Regions from separate parts of the Homo sapiens genome. Here all the other regions are reported to be linked to region 1. The links are microRNA targets in miRTarBase. Many come from high-throughput screens and were not tested one by one. Region 1 holds a microRNA gene; each other region holds the end of a gene's coding sequence.
The links. The annotated mature microRNA hsa-miR-3921 reads UCUCUGAGUACCAUAUGCCUUGU and lies in region 1 at 2,058-2,080, opposite strand. An mRNA with a match to its seed (bases 2 to 7 or 8) in the 3' UTR can be bound and repressed. Matches are read on the target gene's strand: a 7mer-m8 pairs with bases 2 to 8, a 7mer-A1 pairs with bases 2 to 7 and ends in A, and an 8mer does both.

Region 1 (3,169 bases):
AACCAGGGCTAACAGTGGGAAGATGAGGTCGCATGTGATGGGAGAGTGGAAGATGATGGGCAGTCCTCATCAGGAAGGATATTTATTGTTCTCTTGGGAACATAATTACTATGGGCAACATAAAAGGTTCTGCATGAGGTCATTTAGGTTTTGGAATATTTTGTATATTATCTTTTGTTGTTAGAGAAAGGATATATTCAGTCATTAGGGTTAGACAGATATAGCTCTTTCAGTAGCATGACCATTTCTCCAGCAACAATATGTTTGGAGAAAGAAGAGGAAGAGATAATATTGTTTTAACATTCTTATGACTGTGAGAAACTTTGGTGGCTTTTATACACAGGATTATAATTAATAATAACAACAACAACAGCAACAAACACATATAGCACTGTAGGCCTGGTCCTGTTACAGTAAGAAATAGAATGTCCACATTAACTCTATGAGGTAGGTATTATCCTCAGATACAGTTAGTTTAAATAACTTCCCAAAAGTTAGAAAGCTAAGTGGGAGAGCTAGGATTTGGCTGCAGCCCCTAAGAACAAATTGGGAAAGATTTAAGTCATAGATGAAGTACTCTGAGGGTGCCTTAAGACAATGGCTGTAGCCTGCTGTTTATGGTCACAACTACATACTCACTGGAATGTTCATGGCCGAGATAAATAAAGCAAGTATTCATCCATATTTCACATGTTACTCACAGGCATTGCTGCATGGAAGAGATTGCTCTCTTGATGGATTTTAGGAGCTAGCCTGGGTTTTACCAGCCGTTGAGGTTGCTTGCAGCCTTAGTTTCTCTCCCTGCCTTCTGCCACTGTCAAAGAGGGTTTAGCCTGCCTACAGAGGGTAAAATAATTAGGATAACAGTGCACCAGAGAAAGTTCGAAATGCTCTTACTCTTAGGGAAACCTTTCCAAATCAAGCCACTTAATGCTAGCAACCATGAAGGTATAGTTGCCCCAGAATAGTGTGTGGTTTTCCACTAGCAGTGATTTTACCCTAGTGTTGACTGATCCCATGTGGTGGATATATGCAGGTAAGTGCTTCTTGGGAACAGAAGGGATGAAGATAAATAAGAGAAAGTTTGAAGTCATGATCCGTGGAGCCTGTGCTATATAGGAAAAGAAGTAAAAATAAGAGTGGGCTGTTATATAAGGATATAGCACAGAAGTAAGGGGCTGACGGTCTCTGTGGGTCCAAAAAGAAGTGAAGTGGGAGCAACTGCTTGAAAGTATTAGAAGGATAAGAAAGAATGTTGATTGAGCGGGATATTTACATTTTGTGTCAGAGAAGACTTTTAGCACTCCTCTTTGCCTTGATGGTGTTACCTGAATATGCATCCATTTTTTTTTTCTTTTTTTTTAGACGGAGTGTCGCTCTGTAGCCCAGGCTGGAGTGCAGTGGCGTGATCTCGGTTCACTGCAGCCTCGCCTCCAGGGTCCTGGTTCGAGCAATTCTCCTGTCTCAGCTTCCTGAGTAGCTGGGGATTACAGGCACACGCCACCATGCTCAGCTAATTTTTGTATTTTTAGCAGAGACAGGGTTTCACCATGTTGGCCAAGCTGGTCTTGAACTCCTCATCTTGTGATCTGCCTGCCTCAGCCTCCCAAAGTCCTGGGATTACAGGTGTGAGCCACCGCGCCCAGCCACATCCATTTGTTAATGACTTAATTAAAATGTGTCATAACGAAAATGATCAGTAGGCCAGGCAGGAGCTCCCAGGTACAACCAAGGTGAAGCTGATTTCACATGACTTTATAATCTTCAAGCCCATGTTTGAATATTTGAACATAATAATTGTTATGTGATTAAATAAAAACAGAGGGCATAGACTCGTTCTGTGGTGCAGATTTACCCTATAGACTTATATGCTCAGTAGGAAGTACATTGAGTTTTTATAAGCAGTGATAATTCTATCTTCCAAATCCATTACGCTTCAGTTAGATTTAATTTTTATTTATCAATATTTATCTTGATTAATGATCTTACCTCTAGCTAGGTTACAGGTTCCATGAGAATAGGGACAGTGTCTGTGTCTAGTTTCTCCCTAGCCCAGTACAAGGCATATGGTACTCAGAGACTTAGGGATTTCTAAGTCTCTTGAGTACCATATGCCTTGTACTGGGCTAGGTGATGTTTAGGATGGGTCCTTAAACAGGATCAAGGCCAAACCACTTACATTATAGTGAGGCAGTCAAGGTCCTGACAGGTAAGTGATCTGCTCAGGGCTCAGAGCTAGGTAGTGAGAAAGCCTGTGCCAAAACCCAAATCTCATTCCTCACTCTGTTCTTTGCACCATATCACTCTGACATTGAATCAGGTTCTTGTAGTGATCTTCTCTGTGTGTCTAGGGCCAAAAGGAAATGTGTTTCCTAAGCTAGAGCTTCCCAACCTGTTTCTCAATATGGCTCACAGAGAAGCTGGGAATATTTGTCTAGAACAGTATGGTAAACAAAGGAGGCTTTGGAGGGCAGCCGAAGAAAGAGGTCCCCTAGGAGACTAATGCCCAGAAACCTCCAGGCTACCCAAGGGGGATCATACCTTCACACACCTCTCATCTACTATGCTCCCTGTAACTGTGGAAAAACTCTTTCCTAAGTTAATATTAGATCACTTGAACATCAGTCCCATAGTGCACAGATACAATAGTTTCCCAGGCTTTAAGACTCTGTATAAAAATTGTTCTTCAAACCAAAAAGAAACATGATCCTTTTCATTGTATTTCTTGAAGTACCTGATATACTTAGATACTGCTGTATCTGTAAATAAATTATGATACCTTATAAAGTTTTAAAGGAAATTTACAAGTGTTATTTTCTAGTAATTACCTTGAAAGATTACATTGGTCCAGGAAAATGTTTTCTGAAGCAATGTTAATCCTACTAGCCAAGCATATCACTTAGTCCCCACTGTGAGATGAGGGATATGTGCTTAAATTGTGAAACAAATATATGAGTCAGGTATTTTTCCTTTGAGTCCAAGTGGTTTATGACTTTCTTTCCTGTGTTCTTTGTATATGTGGGAGTTTTATAATTTTTTATCAAGAATGAAAGGTTGGCCTGTGTTCTTACTGGTGCAGGCTGTCACATTTCTCTCTGTTGCCCAGTCAGGTGCTATGGCATGTGCTGCTTCTGGCGTAGTGTACTCTGTGGATGTACCAGCATGTTCT
Region 2 (3,169 bases), not on the chromosome of region 1:
GCTCAAACCTCACTGCACATCAGATAATTCATGCAGGAAAGAAACCATATAAATGTGATGAATGTGGCAAGGTATTCAGGCATAGTTCACATCTTGTAAGTCACCAGAGAATCCACACTGGAGAGAAAAGATACAAATGTATTGAATGTGGCAAAGCCTTTGGGCGGTTGTTTTCCCTCAGCAAACACCAAAGAATTCATTCTGGCAAAAAACCTTATAAATGTAATGAGTGTGGGAAATCTTTTATTTGTCGCTCAGGCCTCACTAAACATCGAATAAGACATACTGGAGAGAGCCTTACAACTAAACTCAATGTGACAAGGCCTTAGACGTTGTCCTAGTTTCTGGAATCACCGAATAATTCCTACTTACTGATATACCTTGTATATTTACCCCTTCTCTTGAAATCCCTGTGGAATTGTAATCTCCAGTATTGGAGGTGGGGCCCATTGGGAGGTGATTGAATCATGGAAGTGGATTTCTCAAACTGAGAAAGATGTAGCGTCATCCCCTTGGTGCTGTCCTGGCAATAGTGACTTCTCTTGAGGTCTGGCTGTTTAGAAGTGCATAGCACTTCCCTGTCGCTTGCCCTCATTCTCACCATGTGAAATACCGACACCCGCTTTGCCTTCCACCATGATTTTAACCTTCCTGAGGCTTCCCTAGAGGGTGATCAGATGCCAGCACCATGTTTTCATTTAAGCCTTCAGAAATATGAGCCAATTAAACTCTTTTCTTTATACATTAGCCAGCCTCAGGTTTTTTTTTGTAGCAATGCAGTTATGACCTAATACATTTACACATGCAGTAAATATACCTAAGTTTTAAGCTAGTATTCACTACTCACTAGGTGTAAGAATTTGTATATATATTCCAGGATGTATACATCCTGGAGAAAAATCACAGAAGTGTAATACGTGTGGCAAGAATTCTACTCAAAAGCCAGAACTTGTAAATCTAGGTAATTAAAAGGGCATAGATGTATGAAATGAAATGAGGGTGGCAAAACCTTTACTAGAGTTCAATCACTACTTGTCATAAGAGAGTTTATACTGAAAGGAAATCATATAAATGTATGTGTCAGAGGCTTTCCCCAGGCATTGGAACTCACTAGGCATCAGAATATACATCTTTGAGAGGAACCACAGAAATGTAATGTGCATGCTAAGGTTTTTACCCGAACATCAAAATGGAAAGAGTATTCATACTAGAGACAACCTTCCAAATAAATGGTTTTAAAAAATGAAATGTTCAAAGACCTGGAATCAACCCAAATGCTTATCAGTGATAGACTGAATAAAGAAAATGTGGTACATATACACCATGGGATACTATGCAGCCATAGAAAGGAATGAGATCATGTCCATTGCAGCGATGTGGATGGAGCTGGAAGCCATTATCCTCAGGAAACTAACACAGGAACAGAAAATCAAACAGCACATGTTCTCACTTAAAAGTGGAAGCTGAACAATGAGAACACATATACCCAGGGAGGGGAGCAACACACACTGGGGCCTGCTGATGGGGGTGGGAAGGGCAGGGAAGTGGAGCATCAGGACAAATAGCTAATGCATTTTTGCCTTAATACCAGGTGATGGGTTGGTAGATGCAGCAAACCACCATGGCACACATTTTCCTATGTAACAAATTTGCAAATTGTGCACATGTACCCAGAACTTAAAGTGAGACAAAACCAATGTCCACGCCTTTGCAGTTTGATTGAACGTATAAAGGAGAAAAATCCTGTAAGTATGCTGAACATGAAAGGACCTGGAAGCAGTAGTGTGTCTTCAGCCTTTACCAAATTATCCCTACTTGAGAGAAAACTTGGAAATGTAATCAATGTGGCACAAATTTCAACCAGTTTTTTAAACAGACTACACATCTTTGAAATCATACTAGGGATAACCAAATCTGCTTCTCCAAGATTGGCCTGGAATATTATTACAGAATAACTACCAGACAACATTTGTTAAAACTCAGGACAGTATGTATTTTAAAGGAGCAAGTGCATGTGTGAAAATGGCTCATTCAGTTTATAAAATATTACATTAAATTTGAGGTTTCTGTTTTTTTTCTTTTGTGACAGTCTTGCTCTGTTCCCCATGCTGTAGTGCAGTGGCACCAGTTCACCTCACTGTAACTTCCACATCCTGGTTTCAAGCAATTTGTGCCTCAGCCTCCCAAGTAGCTGGGATTACAGTCATGCCACCATGTCCAGATAATTTTTATATTTTTTTGTAGAGATGGTGTTTTACCATGTTTGCCAGGCTGATCTCAAGCTCCTGGCCTCAAGTGATTTGCCACCTTGGCCTCACACGTTGCTGAGATTACAGGCATGAGCCACCACACCTGGCCAATGGGGCGTTTCTTAAAATAGCTACTAGACTATGACGTTTATCCTAAGGTTTGAAGTCTATCATCTTCCTTACATATCCTTCATTGTGGTATCTGGGAATGAATCAACAAGATGAGAGAGCCTCCTTCATTCAGTGTGGCTCCTTCATTTCCATGCTTCCTGAAGATTAAGGTCACTGAATTTTAAAATTCAATATTCTGTGAGTTACACACCATGGAGTAACTGGGAGAATAATGTAAGTTTATGATGTAAGTTGTGCTTGTGTTCCAGGTGTCCATGAACACGTAGAGTGCCACTTTGGGTTGTAGAAAATAATTGCACAACCAACTGACTGAAATACCAGTGAGGACATTGATGGAATATTAAGGGTATTCATGAGAGGCAAGTGATAGGTTACTAGGGATGGATTGTGTGGGAGAAATAATGCAGAGGAAATGATGATCATCTCCATTGAATGACAGCTGTTATATAGCAAAGATAAATGTAAAATTAGTCTTATTCTTGGAAGTGGAAGACAGCAGTTATCAGAGAGGAGAATTTAATCAAAAGAATCAGAATAGCATGGTCACAGGCCAGATTCACATTGAAGTATTTACTCTATATTTTACTGCTGTTACATTCAAAATGTATCAGAAGTCTCATGGTTCAATTAATAAAATGTTATTCGTTTTCGTAACTCAGTGACGTTCCTTTCACCAACACAGATTTATCCCACCTTAGTAAAGAACTTCTAACAGACACTGCATTACACTCTGCTGGTTAAAATAATGTGCGACAATTGTTTTCTATGGCGAAATCAAACAACATAGA
Region 3 (3,169 bases), not on the chromosome of region 1:
CTTGCACAGGTTAGGTATTGAACAGATATTTATGCCATTAATAAGGGGAGCATTAGAGCTTTCCAGCAGTCACGGGAGGTTAGGTAATAACCCCAGGAGAAGCCACATTCTCTTTTCTTCCCCTCCCCCAACTTAGAGGGTGGTTGGGGGGCTCTCCATCCTCATTAAAGTTGCTGGGGTACAGAGCTGGTTGTTGGCCTGCATCCCTTAAGCCTGGTTCTCCCCATCTCCAGCGGGTGCTAGCTGCATTGATCGTCGCCTCTGTGGTGGGTCTGGCCGAGCTGTATGTCATGGTGCGGGCAATGGAAGGCGAGCTGGGAGAACTGTAACTGGTGCTTCATCATCAAGTCTAGAGAAGACTTTGGGGGCTTCAGGCTCCAATTGGCAGTCACCGACTCAGTCAACCCATCAGACTTTTTGTATTCAGCTCCAGTTAGTCAGAAGACCAGCCCAGGCCAGCTGCTGTTTCTGTGGGGAGCCCTAATCTTCTGTGAATTTCCAAAGGGAGCATTGGAGGAGATTGAGATAACACATCTTTAAAACAGAAAGAACTGGTCTTGGTCTATCAGTACCTCTTCCTGAATCTGGTACCCATCTGCCTTCTCCAGTTCATTCTAAACACTGCTGGGACTAGGGTTTTTCCATCAGGAGCAAATGGAATCCAGGCCTTCCCAGAAGTAGACCATACTGCCTTGAACTTGTCCATATGTACAAACTGATCACCAGCTTTCTCCATACATTTTTAATGCAGACCTGTAATTGAGTTCAGAAGCCTCCAAGAAAACAGAAAGGATCCCCTTTCTCCAGTTTGTGCTGGAAGAGGAGCTGATCAGAGACATCAAATAAGAGAAAGATGGGTTGCTAGAGGATGGTAGAACTGGAAGCAAGGCAGCTACCTTTTTGCAAAAGGAAATGGTGTTAGGCCCCTTTTCCAGAAGATAAGACAGACTCATAGAGATTAAATGATCACTATGGTCCTTCTTCTGTTAAATGGAGCCAAAGACGCCTATGTTGTTCTGAAGTCTTGTAATGTTTAACTTCTGAGAACTTAGATTAGTGGTGTGATGATAGAGTCTGTATAACGCATTGAAAAGGGTATCAGGCTTAGTTATTTATCCAATAAATATTTATTGTATGCAGGGTATTCCTATTTTAACTCCTGTGACAACACAAAGCATAGCGATTTCCATAGTTCTAACTGTTCAGGGTCTGCTCCTCCTGGTACACTCTTTTTGGTTCACTGTATGTACTCCTGTTGTCTTTTTTTTTTTTTCCAAAGCACTTTTCTGTTTTCATAAATTATATACTCATTCACTCAGTGGACACTTCCTCTACAATGTTTGCCAGTTTCTGTTAGTTGGGAGAAGTGTCAGCTGTGAAAAGAAAAAGTAGGTGGCATTTTACAGTGTTTCCAGTAACCTGAGCTATATAAAATTTGTGTTAAAAAGCTACACTGGGCCAGGTGAGGTGGCTCACACCTGTAATCGTAGCATTTTGGGAGGCTGAGGCAGGCGGATCACTTGAGGTTGGGAGTTTAAGACCAGCATGGCCAATATAGCGAAACCCCATCTTTACTAAAAATACAAAAAAATTAGCCAGGCGTGGTGGTACATGCCTGTAATCCCAGCACTTTGGGAGACCAAGGTGGGAGGATGCTTGAGTTCAGGAGTTTGAGACCAGCCTGGGCAACATGGCAAAAGCCCATCTCTACAAAAAAACGCAGAAATTAGCTGACATGGTAGCGCACGCCTGTAGTCCCAGCTACTCAGGAGGCTAAGGTGGGAGGATCACTTGAGCCTGGGAGGCAGAGGTTGCAGTAAGCTGAGTAAGCCAAGATCATGCTATTGCACTCTAGCCTGGATGACAGAGTGAGACCTTGTCTCAATGAAAAAGCAGGGGGCACTGGGAGGGGAGAACCAAATGCCCTATCCTCCAGTTCTCAGCATATAGAAGGGAGCTCTCTCATCTGCTAGCCACTCCTGCCTCACTGTGCCATGCTTTCTGTAATGCACTCTGGGTCCAGGGACTGCTTGGCAGGAGGTGGGAAGAACAAGAAGTTTAGGGCCTTCCCAGTTTCTTAGGGCCTGTCTGGAGAGGGAACTAGCGTTTACTGAGTTTTTACGATGTGTTACACACCATGTAAAGCCCTTTACCTACATTATTTCTTATACCCCAAACAGAGAGCAAATAAGTATCCCCATTTTTTAGTCACATAGAGTTCCAGAGTTGCCACAGTTACATCGCAAAGTCAGGATTTGAATCCAGTGCAGACCGCAAACACCATGGTTTTCTCTCCAAAGCAGAGCAGCTCCAGAGGTGGAGGTGACTGGAATGTCCTAGATTCAGTGGGACCAGGAGCTGGGGGTGCTAGCAGAGGCTCTCATCTCCCCAGGGTCTTGTCAGTCAGAGTCCTAAACCCTTCAATTAACTATCCCTCTAATCCCAGCTGAAGCCTGGGTAATACCTCCCACCAAGAGGTATCTGTGTGGAACCTGGCCCTATTTAGGGATTAGGTGATGGAGATAAATTTCCATGGCAAACGGCCCTCGTCCCCGTTCGTTTGCAGAGCACAACAATCCAGATTAAGGTACAGAGTTTGGGTTTTATTTGGAGATTAGTTGGTATTACAGGTGATGGTGATACCAAAACCCAATGCTGCTATACCTGCCTCCATCCCAGATCTGTCAGGTTGTCTCCACAGCCCCACATCAGAGGGCATCCAATCTGATCTTTGTGAAAATTAAATCAACATAAGCCCCAGCTTCCTATCTTTGCTTCATTACTTTAATGCCACTCCCTCTTCACATCCGTAGTTCTGATTAATTTGTCCAGGTGGTCGATGGTCAAGAGAGGGGGCCCTGACCCATAAAGAAGTTGGCTCTCCAGCAGTCTAGATGAGGAGCAGCACTCTCCTCTCCTACCTCACTTAGCAGTTAGCAAGGTAATGGCCTGGAGAGACCTCAGGAGACAGGAGCCTGCCCCTTCAGAAGGAGGAGGCCATCAGCTGGTGAGAACTGGGGACCAGGCCTGGCAAGAGTGGAGGAAAACATGACCCTCATCTCATCCTTCTGAAGGTACCACCTGCCACAACAATGAGCATATGCCCCAAAGGGGTCAGGGTGTGGGGTGGCAGGAGCCAGGCCCCAGTCTGCTTAGGACCTGCATCTAG
Region 4 (3,169 bases), not on the chromosome of region 1:
TTTAAAAATGTTGAGGGAAAAATAGAATTTTGGCCTAGAATTGAGAGAAAATACATACTAGGAACAAAGCAGAGTTAACTGCAAGAGAGGAGAAATGTGATTCTTTAGGATTGGAGAACTCTGTTTCGATAAACACTGGTTCTTTTTGCTTTTTCTTTTACAGGTGTGAGTGTTATGACTATTTATTTGATATTGCCGTATCAATGAAGAAAGTAGGACTTGATCCTTCACAGCTCCCAGTTGGAGAAAATGGAATTGTCTAAGCCAAAAGAAAGTCTAATTATATACAGAGATAAAGCTAAACGTAATTATTATTTAAATGAAAGCTATTTTTTTAAATGAATTGAAATTTTTCATGATGCTACTAATTTGCCACTAAATACTGCAAATGGTCACCCTGAATCTCTTCTGACATTGGATGTTATTTGCTTATATTCTTATAATTTTAAATGAGGGCACAGTGAAATGAAAATTTTATACTCTATGTTTCTGTTTATTTTTAAATCCTTAACAGCAAAATATTTGCCTTTAATTTCTTTTTTATATATACTCTCAGAGAATTCCTCTTAATTTTTAAAGATGCTGGTGATAATAAAATTCATTAGAAAATTTCCTCATTGTGGAATGAGCATTCTCTTGTTTTAATGTTGGTGTCAGAAAATAAATATGAAACATTAAGTCCAAATTTATCCCTCAATGTTAATGTCAAAATAATTTTATAGATTTCCCCTATTAGCTTTAGTGTTTCCCTGTGGTCTACAACAGGACACTCATTTTATATTGGGATCAGTTGTGAAATTCAGGTCAGGTGGTATCAACTCAAATTCCCTTAACCAAACAAATCTTGATCAAACCGATGATGTAATCAGAAAGTCCTTTCTTTAAAATTGTTTTAAATTTTAGGTTTGGGGGCCCACATGAAGGTTTGTTACATAGACAAACACATGTCACAGGGGTTTGTTGTACATATTATTACATCACCCGGGTATTAAGTTCAGTATCCAATAGTTATCTTTTATGCTCTTCTTCCTCCTCCCACCCTCCGCCATCAAGTAGACCCCAGTGTCTGTTGTTTCCTTCTTTGTAGTCATAAGTTATTGCCATTTAGCTCCCACTTAGAAGTGAGAACATGCAGTATTTGGTTTTCTGTTACTGTGTTAGTTTGCTAAGAATAATAGCCTCCAGCTCCATCCATGTTCCCGCAAAAGACATAATCTTGTTCTTTTCTATGGCTGCATAATATTCCATGGTGTATATGTACCATATTTTCCTTATCCATTCTGTCACTGATGGGCATTTAGGTTGATTCCGTGTCTTTACTCTTGTGAATAGTGCTGCAGTGAACATTTGTGTGCATGTGTCGTTATGGTAGAATGCTTTATATTCCTTCAGGTATATACCCAGTAATAATAGGATTGCTGGGTCAAATGGTTGTTCTGCTTTTAGCTCTTTGAGGAATTGCCATACTGCTTTCCACAATGTTTGAACTAATTTGCACTCCTACCAACACTATGTAAGGGTTCCCTTTTCCCTGCAACCTTGCCTGTATCTGGGTTTGTTTGTTTTTTCTTTTTTTTTTTTTTTTTTTTTTGTGACAGTCTTGCTCTGTCACCCAGGCTGGAGTGCAGTAGCACCATCTTGGCTTACTGCAACCTCCATCTCCTGGGTTCAAGCGATTCTCCTGCCTCAGCCTCCCAAGTAGCTGGGATCACAGGCATGCTACCACCCCCGGCTAATTTTTGTATTTTAGTAGAGACAGGGTTTCGCCATGTTGGCCAGACTGGTCTCAAACTCCTGGCCTCAAATGATCCGCCCACCTCGGCCTCCCAAAGTGCTGTGATTACAGGCATGAGCCACTGCCCCCAGCCTGTTTTCTGGATTCTTGGCGGAGGTTCTTCCACTGGGGAAAAATAGTTTTAGCCACCTCTGGTTAATTTCATTTTCCTCATTTTAAAATGCAGCTAATGAATAAGATAAAGTATGTGGAGGAACAAACCACAATGCTTAATCCAGTGTAGATGTTCAATAAATATTAGTGTTTTTTAAAATCCCTTTTAATCCTCATAATAGTCTTTTGAGATAGATATTGTACCTATTTTCTTAGATGAGAAAATTGAGGCTCAGATAGGAATAATAAATATGTAGAATTTAAATAAGAGAAAACAGGTAAACTTCTTAACACAGTACCTGTCATATACTATGTATGCACTCAAAATATAAACTTCCTTTCCTAAAAACCCCTCACCTAGCTATCTTCAAAGTAATTGTCATGCAGGTAAACCATTTAAACTATACAGCAGCAGCAGCACATCTCCAGTTGTATATTTCTTTCCTGGGAGTGCAGAAAAGATTGCAAAACCTGCTTTAGAGGTAGGGGAACAGCTGGTGGAAGGCTGTATCCCCTAGTTAATATCCTTTTTTTTTAAGAATATGATCCCTCCTGTGTGACTGCTAGGAGCCAAGGTCCAAAGATGAATACAAATCCAGGCTGGGAGCTAATCCTCAGTGCCTGCCACATAGGTGTTCAGTGAATGAGGGAGGGGGAAGCAGGCATTCTTCTTCACATGCCCTTGTGATTGTTGTTCTCTCAGTTATTCCAGCTTCTTTAAATAAGAGGAAAATTTGGTTATGAATGCAGGATTAAACTGCTAAGAGATCTAGATCAAACACATTTTTTATTTCATTAAGTGCAGGACATGCCATTCACTCTCAGATTGAATAAGGGACTATCATTTGTTTCTCAAATGATTCTAGAGGCTTTTGGTCCCACCCAACTTTCTTGTGAGAGATACTTCAAAATAACATAGTTCCCTAGAGAATGTCCCAAAATCCGAAAGGTAAAGTCATAATCTTAAGGAGTGTTTCATTTTATATCTCAATTTGTTCAAATACCTCCCTTTTGAGAAAATTTTGCCATGTCTCATCAGCAGTTCTAGTCAAGATGGTCAGATGTGGAACTAATAATGTTGACATCACTATTCAAGAGGCAATTTGAATTCTCCCACCAAGTTTCTTTAAAGCAGGACTACAAGGCCCAGCACAGTGGCTCACGCCTGTAATCCCAGCACTTTGGGAGGCTGAAGTAGGCGGATCACCTGAGGTCAGGAGTTTCGAGATCAGCCTGGCCAACATGGTGAAACCCCATCTCTACTAAAAATATTTTAAAAAT
Region 5 (3,000 bases), not on the chromosome of region 1:
TCTCACCCAGGACCTGAGCGAGGCCATGAGTATGGGGGAGCTGCAGCGGGAGCTGGGTCTACAGGCTATCGATAACCAGCGGGAGGTTTTCCTCTTGGCAGCCAGCATTGCCCCTGCAGGACCCACCTTTGAAGAGCCTGGCACCGTGCACATCTGGAAACTGCTCTTGGAGCTCCTCTCCTAGGCTGGAGCTCTCCTGCTTGCCACCTGCCTGTCAAGACCATAGTTGTACTGCTGCTGCTTCATTGCCAGACTGGGCCTGGGGCAAGAGCCACATGGCAGCATTTCCCTTTTCCCCTCCTTTGCCTTTCAAGAGCAGGGCCTGGGCAAGGCCAAGAACCATGCAGAAGCCTTCCTGGTGAGGTGGCCGTGAAGCCGAAGCAGGGAGGTGGGTGAGACAGAGGGTGGGGAGGATAGTGTCTGGCTCATTCCAGGCTGGAATGTGGATCCAGCTTTCCCTTCTCTTACCTGTACAGTGAGATGCTCAGTGGGCTCAATCCTCCACTACAGGTCCCGGTACCTGAGGAACCAGTGTAGGTGTCAGAAATACTCCTAGAGCCTCAAGGTCTCCCAGTCCAGAAACAGTCTGGTGACGTCATGCCCTTCTCATGTGGGCAGCTTCTGAGTGGTGACACAGCAAGCCTTTGTTCCTGTCCTGCATTGTCCAGCCCCAGCTCCACCTAAGTGACTTGTGGCCTTGTGCAATCTCTGCCTCTCTGACCCCAGGGCCATTATTTTTAAAGGGAGGTGGTTTCCTAATTCGGAGATGCCTTTCCCAGCCATGGGAGTGTGAAGTGCTAGGATGAACCTGGCCATCCTAGCAAGGAGCTTTCTGAAGACCTCCCTGCCTTTCCCTGAGCCCAGGCCTGGCCTGCCAGCCTCTCTTGACTACAGAATAACTGATATTCACCCACCAAACAGAAAAAGTGAAGGCTGGGTTTTTCCCCTCTAATCTGGAGACAAGCTGCTGCTCTCGTACTAACTGTGCCAGTGCCCATGTTTACAGAAGTCAGGGGAAGGAAGGAGCCTGTGTCCCTGGGACGACAGTCAACTGGAGCTAGGTGTTGACCTCAGAACTGCATTTTATTTATTAATTTATAAGCAGAACAGGCCAGAGTTCTAGGCTCTGTTTCTAGGTGCTGTTTTCAAAACCCCAGATGACAGTCATAGAAAATTTGGAACTTAGGAAAATAGCTGGAATCATGAATGACAATGAGATAACATACAGATGTCAGTGGAGACAAAGTTGTGGGTTCCTCCTCCCACCTGGCTTTGAGGCTGTCGTCGATATCATAGTACTTTACATGGATTCACATGAACTGAAACGCCACCACTTGGCCCAGGATGTTGAAAGGGTGCAAATTCCTTCTGGGTAGATAAGAAATGACTCTGGGAGAGGATTTCCCTTATGTGAATCTAGGTAAAAAGATGGAAAAAAATTGTATTATGTGATCCTAAGGACAGGAATAGCAGACCAGCCAACGGGATGGCCTTGGGTACATCACTCAGCCTTTCTGGACCCAATTTTTCCCCAGTGAAAGCCAAGTTGGACTGAATTTCTGGAGTTCTCATCAGTGCACATTCCATAGTTCTCCAGTGCTTGGCGATCAGCCCAATTGAAGGACTGGCTCTGTACTGACACTTATTATCGGTACAGGCAAAGAGGAGCCTGTTGTCTGTTAGGGACCACTAAATCAACAACCACAAATGGATTTTTTTTTTAAGAGGAGCTGTGCACCTCAATTTGCTGTCTAGTTGAGAATAGAGATTGTGTGCCTTCATTTCATTTGACATTTACCCAGCATGCCTCAGTTCCACACCGTGACCAGTGTAAGAAGAGGAACTATGATAAAAACAGTTCAACAAGCCGCAAGGAGGGTGGGAAATTCTGAAGTCCAGAAGCGAGTGTGATCTTTGGAATAGTGGCTGCTGTGCCCTTGGGCGCCATTTGAAGAATCACTGTTCTTGAAAGTGCTGGTTCACTTTCTGCAGTAAGAAGTGATTTATGGGCTTTTATGTAAAATTTTAAGAATGACTTGGGTTTCAGAGTAGCCTTTGAAACTTTGCTGGCAGCTTTTCATTTTGTCATTGGAAGGCTAAGAGACTTTTCTCCTTTGTTCTATGAACTCCTTGTTCTTCAGGGCTTGAAGGCAAAAAAACCTTAGACAACTTTAACGAAGTTTAAAAAGTATGTTCTGTTTTTGAGCAGAAAAAAGATTCGTGAACTGGTTAGTACTTAGCACCAAAAGCAGTTCAGAATGCTCAGCCCCACAATGTGTGTAGGCTACATTTATAGCCAGAGAAACGAAAATAACTTAGGTTGCCTGATTGGCTGCAGTCTGGCATTTGCCTTACCTGAACATGTTTTAGCAGCCTTCAGCCGACGATTGACTGAAGGTTTGGCTGCTGTGATTGGCTAAAATTCGGCTACTTGTTAGAAGAACATACTTTTAGGTTAGGTTACGAGTTGTTTACACGTTAAGTTACAATTCACTGTGTACAGAGGCAGCTTTAGGCCAGACTTAATTCAGCTTCACAGTGTCCCTCATTTTGCTCAGCCCCTTAATTTTGAGAGATTGACCAAAATCCCACGCACTGACACTACCTTCTGTCACTATTTGACCTCATTATGGAACTCACAGTTTACAATGTTAAATCAGTTAGCGGATTCTGTATGTCTTCATGTTTCTGTTACTCTAACCGTAATGAGACCATTTGAGGTACAAAGGATGACTGCATTGGTGTACTTAAGACTACAACACATCAGTGGGGACCTTAGGATGGCTATCAGGAGTGTAATACCAAGAAACTGGAATGCATCCCTTAATATGAGTCTCCACAAACCAAACTGATTGGAATCAAACAACTCAAGTTCAGACGATAAAAATAGTTCAACAGCGTGCAAGCTCTGCTGCTCATAGCCTGTTCAGGGTATAATGGCAATTAAGGACATAGTTCACTATGAAGTACCTTAATTGTAAAGTGTTTGATTTTTTAGTT

Region 2: the mRNA of ZNF616 is a reported target of hsa-miR-3921. The part of its 3' UTR that is shown has no 7-base or 8-base seed match.
Region 3: miRTarBase lists VMA12 as a target of hsa-miR-3921. Seed matches in the 3' UTR shown: 7mer-A1 at 830-836.
Region 4: the mRNA of APIP is a reported target of hsa-miR-3921. Seed matches in the 3' UTR shown: 8mer at 552-559.
Region 5: the mRNA of ARL10 is a reported target of hsa-miR-3921. The part of its 3' UTR that is shown has no 7-base or 8-base seed match.

What each region holds. Positions count from the first base shown.
Region 1 is chr3:99,962,268-99,965,436 of GRCh38, forward strand. It overlaps MIR3921 (microRNA 3921), which reads right to left and starts at 2,131; the gene lies at 2,047-2,131. All of the region lies in intron 1 of CMSS1 (cms1 ribosomal small subunit homolog), which reads left to right. The region is part of intron 1 of FILIP1L (filamin A interacting protein 1 like); the gene reads right to left. All of the region lies in intron 1 of LOC105374010 (a long non-coding RNA gene), which reads left to right.
Region 2 is chr19:52,111,978-52,115,146 of GRCh38, reverse strand. ZNF616 (zinc finger protein 616) reads left to right here. Exons shown (of 4, transcript NM_178523.5): 4 at 1-2,056. The coding sequence ends at 329. Among named protein-coding and RNA genes, the nearest start is that of ZNF841, 18 kb to the right of the region's middle.
Region 3 is chr17:28,360,924-28,364,092 of GRCh38, forward strand. VMA12 (vacuolar ATPase assembly factor VMA12) reads left to right here. Exons shown (of 6, transcript NM_152464.3): 6 at 234-2,760. The coding sequence ends at 329. SEBOX (SEBOX homeobox) reads right to left here. Exons shown (of 3, transcript NM_001080837.4): 3 at 2,583-3,169. Among named protein-coding and RNA genes, the nearest start is that of MIR4723, 1.9 kb to the left of the region's middle.
Region 4 is chr11:34,879,811-34,882,979 of GRCh38, reverse strand. It overlaps APIP (APAF1 interacting protein), which reads left to right. Exons shown (of 7, transcript NM_015957.4): 7 at 164-685. The coding sequence ends at 263. Among named protein-coding and RNA genes, the nearest start is that of APIP, 35 kb to the left of the region's middle.
Region 5 is chr5:176,371,712-176,374,711 of GRCh38, forward strand. It overlaps ARL10 (ARF like GTPase 10), which reads left to right. Exons shown (of 4, transcript NM_173664.6): 4 at 11-3,000. The coding sequence ends at 184. Among named protein-coding and RNA genes, the nearest start is that of MIR1271, 5.3 kb to the left of the region's middle.